2 separate regions of the Homo sapiens genome follow, and region 2 is linked to region 1. The links come from fine-mapping of genetic effects on gene expression. A gene starts in region 1. The other region holds a variant in brackets. All regions are shown on one strand. Distances are between the middles of the regions.

Region 1 (2,905 bases):
AACCTGGGAAACATGGCAAGACCCTGACTCTACAAAAAATGTTTTAAAAAAATTAGCCAGGCATGGTGGGTCACGTCTCTGGTCCCAGCTGCTTGGGAGGCTGAGGCAGGAGGATTGCTTGAGCCCAGCAGATGGAGGTTGCAGTGAGCTGAGATCACACCACTGTACTTCAGCCTGGATGACAGACAAGGCCCATTGTCAGGAAACAAAAAACAAAAAACCGCTGCCTGATGTACCATATCTTTCACATCTTGTTCAAGCAGTCATTATTGGATGAGCATTTCAGTTATTTCCCATCATTTCCTATGATAAGCAGCTCTCAGCAAGCATCTCTGTGCCTGTCTCCTGTGCACAGGCATAAGTAGTAGGAGACCCTCATCTCTGGTTTTCAGAGGTCTTTGCCAAATTACCCTTCAGAGTCTGTGTGTGTGCTTTAATGGGGAGGGGTGTCCGTTCCTGTTCTTTGGTGCTGTTTATTTCTGGTTTCTTTTCCACACTAGCTGCAGAGTGGAAAGGAGCCAAGGCGAGGGAGAGAAATCTGTCTCTAGGTGTTCCAAGGCCCTGGATGTGCCACAGGGCTGGCCTCCCCTCCGGAGGCGGTAAATGGCTGCTTTGTTCTTGGGTCCGTCCCTGAGCAGAATCAGGACGCAGAGATGTGTCAAGTGGACAAAAGAAATTGTGCACATCACCAAGCCTGGATCCCACCCCTTGACCTGGAGAAACTGTTAACTTTGTAGGAGTCGCACACACACCAGTGTGACTGGGCAAGGGGCGAGCGCCCACCCCGAACCCTGAAATAATTAAGTTATACAAAAGAAAAAAAAACATAACAAAAGAGCCTGACCCTCACTAATGGATGTAAAGGAAAGAACCAAGCTGACTCTCAATCTAGGAGAAGTGGGAGGCGCAAAGGGGGAAAGGGGCTTGGGGGAAACCCAGGACGGAAGGAAGGGGTGTGCAATGGATCAGATCTGGACTGAAGAGGCGGACAGATGGGAAAGGGGAAAGAAAGGAGGGAAAGGAGAAAGAGTGAGGAAGGGGCTGGAGGAAAGTGACAAGGTAAGAAGAGGAAGGAGAGGGCTGGAGGAGGGAGGGGGTGGCCAAGAGCAGTTTAGGAGGGGTAGGCTGCGTCCCAGTCTGTTTGTGATTAGCACGCAGCCTGGTGCAGAATGGAGTAAACAGAAACTTCCAGGCGTCCCCTCCGCCCCTCTCTGAGGCAAAGCAGAAATCAGATGCTCTGTGATTAATCGTGGAGGATTCAGGACACGACCACAAACGCTGTGCGGACTTGAAATTAGCTGCCTTTTCCCAGTCCCCTTGCCAAAATGGGAGTGGGGGGTGGGACGTGAAGGGGTGGGGGCCCCGCCTGCTGGGGGCCAGCATGGAATTCCCCCCGGCAGAGCTGGGAGTGACACTGACAAGCAATCGGCCGCGTCCAGAGCAGCAGGCGGCATCCGGGGGGAGCGGGGCCGGCTGGGGGGCCCCAGGAGGGCTTCCTGGAACCCCAGCTCCATGGCCGCCTGCACCCTGACACAGGCCAGATAAGAGTCCCGGCTGCATTATCAGAGCCCGGCAGGGCACCGGCCTCCCTGCACCAGAAGGAAGACTCGGGGCGCAGCAGGTCCTCAAGGCGATCTTCCCAGAGAGCGGGACCAGCGGCTGGTGGCCAGTGTGGATGGAATTTGCAGAGCCCTAGCTCGAGTCCGGGAGTCCCGGGCCAGATGGGAGCAGACGCTTGCTGGCGGCAATAGGGAAAGTGAGGCAGCTGCAAGGAGGGCGGCGGGACTGCACTCGAGTGTCCAGACCTGCTCGATGGTGAGTGTGAAGTGACTGCTCCCCATGTGTGCCGTGACGCCGCCTTGTGTGGACAGACTTCTGGAGCTGGGGGTGACAGGAGGAGGCAGCCGTTCCTCACAGGCCACCTGGAGCTCCCAAGGCCGGAGGAGGGAACCTGGGTTGAGGCTGAGATGGGATGGCGGTATCGTGCTGTGTGGCCTTAGGCAAGTTATTTGCCCTCTGCAGGCCTCCATTTGTCCGTTTCTAAAACAGTGGTTGAACTAGGTGATCTTTAAGAGATTCTCATGATGACAGCTATTCCTTGTGTATCTGCTATACGCCAGGCACTGTGTAGGCATTTTTGAAGCGTCGGCTCGGGAAATCCCGGTAAGCCCCCTGCAGGGTAAGTATTATTGGTGTCCTCATTGTACCCTGAGGAAACAGCAGCTGGGCGAAGTGAAGTGACTTGCTGAGGTCACACAGCCGGTCAGTGGCAGAAACGAAAAAAGACCTAGGTTTTTCTGACTTGCTTTGGCTAAACTCTCCTGTACACCCCCAGTATTCTGTATTCTGTGCTCCATGGTTCTGCAATTATCCCAAGCAGCAGGGGTGAAGGAGAAGGAGGTATGGATGGAGCATTACCTGCAGGAAGGAGGCAGAGGTGGGACAGAAGGAGTGACAGGCTGACACTGGCAAGCAGCCTTTTACTCTCTAAAGGATGTGTCAGCCCAGGGTGGAGGCTGGCTGCCCTGGGATGGGGCAGGGGCTCCAGGCTTGAACGAAGAGTGCCCAGTGCAATTTCCTAGATTTGCTGCCTTGTCGTAGGAGGCTCCTGGGGGCATGAGAGAAGAGGGTTAATATGTCAGAGGTGGAGAGAGCTGGGGGCAGGGAGACTGGCATATGCCTCAACTAGGTTTTGTTCCAATTTTATTTTGCCTTTGCAGAAAATCTGTTTCGAATCACTCTGGGCCCGTGCAGTGTTTTTGGATGAAACAGAATTGTGAAACGCATACAGCGCTTTCCACATGCCTCCCCTGGGGGGAATCACATATTAATATTATCGTAAGCTATTTGCATATATATCCCTGCAGCTGTGGCTGGCAGCAGCCAAGAGATAAGAGACAGATAA
Region 2 (2,905 bases), 96 kb after region 1:
GCTCTGTTTCGAGTTGCTGCCACCCTTTGTTCCTTTCCCCTTCCTCTTCAGTTGAACTTCCTGGGACCTGGAGTGGGCCTCCTGACCTGGGGCTCGCTGGGAAGGGAGGGTTCCCCCACCCTCAGAGGGAGCTGAACTGCTAACTGGAATGGTCACCCAGTTCTCAATTCAACTCAGAAAGGACCGGCCCCTGCCCCCACCGTCATCACTGAAAGCGTCATCCAGGGAACTCACAGCCGGTGCCCCAGAGCTGGACGTGCTGCTGATGGTACACCTCCAAGTCTGCAAAGCTCTGCTGCAGGTGGCTGGGCTAGGGGACTTGTCAGGGAGGGGCAGACAGGGGTTTGGAGTCCTCTTTGCAAAGGCTCATCTTGAAGGTGGTGGGAAGCATGAAGGGGTGACAGACCTGCATCCTGGAAGCCCGTGAGACTGAAGCTATTCCCCAGTGGAAGAGAGGCAGACCAGGGTCTGGGTGAATACTCGTGTGGCTCTTACACAGGCCAAGCCCTAAACCAAAGGCTTTGGTGGTGACTCTCATTTATAGGTGCCAGAACCCTAATGCAAACTGGCTCAGCCAACAGGAAAATTTATCGGCTCATGGTACTGAAAGCCTCAGAGGTAGGCTTCAGGCTCGGCTGGATGCACGGGTTCAAATGCTATCAGGACTAGGTCTCTCTCAGTTCTGCTTTGCAATGTGGGTTGGCTTCACTTTCAGGCAGGTTGGTCCTCCTTCTGGGGGCAAAGGTGGTCCCTGGCAGCCCAGCCTGCATCCCATTAGCTCAGCCACCTTGGTGAAAGGGGAATCCCCAAATGACAGTCAGGGAGCTGCCCCCGGGACAGAAGAGATGGGCACAAGCAGGTGGGAGCCACAGCCGTAACAGCTGACCTCGGTGGGCATGTTCCATGCTAATCTGGAGCATCTGGGCTGCTTCCCAGAAACTGGCCTCCCCTAATTTATCAAGGCTGGTCCAGGAATGCCTCCTGGAAGAAGTGGCACAGCAAAAGCACGTTCTGGAGACACTTTCTGTCCTTGACTTTGAGAAGGTCGGCAAGGCAACATCCATTGAAGAGAGTAAGTAGCTGCCTGCCACCCAGGGGCTGCCTATGTGAGCGGCACGGGGACGGGATCAAAGCTCGGGGAGCCTCTTCTGCCTTCCTAATAGCCAGAGTTAATCGGGGCCCAGAGTGGAGGCTGTGGCTGGGCTGGGCTCAGAGATACACACTCTTTGTGGGGAGGTAAGGGAGACAAGTCCTGGAGTTGCAGCACACTCTTCAGTCAGCTGTGTGACTCTAGGCAAATGATTCACATCTCTGAGCCTCTGCTTCCCTATCTG[C/T]ATAGGAGGAGGGCACTGCACGGGGTTCAGTGAGGTAACCCCAGGCCACATTCAAGGTGCAGAATGTGCCGTCAAACAGTAGCTGTGATCCCAGCTGTGCCTCTGCCCCGTGGGACCTCCCCTCAGAAGGCCAGGTTCCTTGTCTGTAAGGAGAGGCTGGTGACAGCAGCCCCTCCCAGGTTGTTGTGGGGACTGCAGGTGGTGGCCCTGGTAAGATGCTTAGAGCCAAAGTTGCTCACGTGTCACATGGGAATGCAGGGAAGGGACCTCGCATCAAGCCACACCGTCCCCTCCTCCCTACCCCCTCAGGTCCTAGTGGAGGGAAACCTTTCGGGTCCTTGTCATGTGCTCTCCCCGAGTCACCATTCAGGTTTCTGAACTGGGGCTTTCAGTCATCCCACAGGCCTCGCGGACGAAGGGGTGCCTGAAGCTGTGGAGAGGGTGCACAGGGCCTGGCAGGGTCCTGTCCTGCCCTGCCACGACGCTGCTGAACCAGCTCAAGAAAACCTTCCAGCACAGAGTCAGAGGGAAGTACCCAGGACAGCTGGAAATAGGTGGGTTCCCTTCTGTCCTGTCGTCCCCTCCCACAGAAAGGCTGTATTGAGTCTCCAGGGCCTTCAGGGTGGCCACAGCTGGCCTCATTTCAGCCCTGTCTTCACCTCTGTGTCTTCATGCCATCGGACGGAGGAGCTTTCTCAGCTTCAGTGCGAGTCACCGCCCTTTCACCGGGCGAGAAGGGGCCTCCACGTGGGGCCTTCTGAGCAGTCTGTGGAGCCCTGAAGCTGCGTGCAAACTTGGTGGGCCGGTGCATTTTTTTTTTTTTTTTTTTTTGAGATGGAGTCTCACTCTGTCGCCCAGGCTATAGTGCTGTGGCACAATCATGGCTCACTGCAACCTCTACCTCCCGGGTTCAAGCGATTCTTCTGCCTCAGCCTCCCGAGTAGCTGGGATTACAGGTGTGCACCACCACGCTTGGCTAATTTTCTTTTTTTGTATTTTTAGTAGAGACGGGGTTTCGCCATATTGGCCAGGCTGGTCTCGAACTCCTGACCTTGTGATTCGCCCGCCTCGGCCTCCCAAAGTGCTGGGATTACAGGCATGAGCCACTGCGCCCGGCCGCCAGAGCATTTTTCTGGGGACAGATTCCATGCCTCCCACCAGAGCCTGACGGGTAAAGAATGAACCTTATGGGAAGGGAGGCAGGCAGGGGCCCACGAGGGTATCTAGAAATGCTGGCTGGACTGCGTTCTTCCCCAGAATTTGCCTTTCTCTGTGGAGCAAGTGAAAGGTGACAGTCATGTTCCAAGCACCACCTGGACTGCTTGTTGACATGCATATTCCCAGGCCCTGCCTCCGGGATTTTGATCCAGGTGTGGTGTGGGGCCCAGGGCATGGGGATGAACCCAACACGGTCTGACTCAGGGTGAGTTGGAGTCACAGTCCTGACTCTAGCTGGGCACACTCCTCCCCTACAGCACAGGGAATGCAGTGAGGGACACCTGCCCTCGTGCCATCAGAAACCCTTTTTTTTTTTGAGATGGGGTTTCACTCATGGTTGCCCAGACTGGAAT

Which allele goes with the higher level. Positions count from the first base shown, and alleles are read on the strand shown. Sizes are in standard deviations (SD) of each study's normalised expression.
With allele T in place of C in region 2, the expression in esophagus muscle of the gene that starts at base 1,399 in region 1 is higher (small effect, 0.22 SD a copy in GTEx).

Evidence for each region. PIP is the estimated chance that this variant, and not a neighbour inherited with it, causes the effect. A credible set is the group of variants that fine-mapping cannot tell apart.
Region 2: its variant is the best candidate, but not a certain one, in a credible set for the expression of RIPOR3 in esophagus muscle (GTEx, PIP 0.81).

Annotation. Positions count from the first base shown.
Region 1 is chr20:50,690,036-50,692,940 of GRCh38, reverse strand. It overlaps RIPOR3 (RIPOR family member 3), which reads left to right and starts at 1,399. Exons shown (of 22, transcript NM_001290268.2): 1 at 1,399-1,815. The coding sequence starts at 1,813. RefSeq lists an enhancer at 316-2,905.
Region 2 is chr20:50,593,536-50,596,440 of GRCh38, reverse strand. RIPOR3 (RIPOR family member 3) reads left to right here. Exons shown (of 22, transcript NM_001290268.2): 15 at 178-301; 16 at 937-1,072; 17 at 1,727-1,888. Among named protein-coding and RNA genes, the nearest start is that of MIR645, 9.2 kb to the right of the region's middle. The variant C/T (reference allele first, on the strand shown) is at 1,335.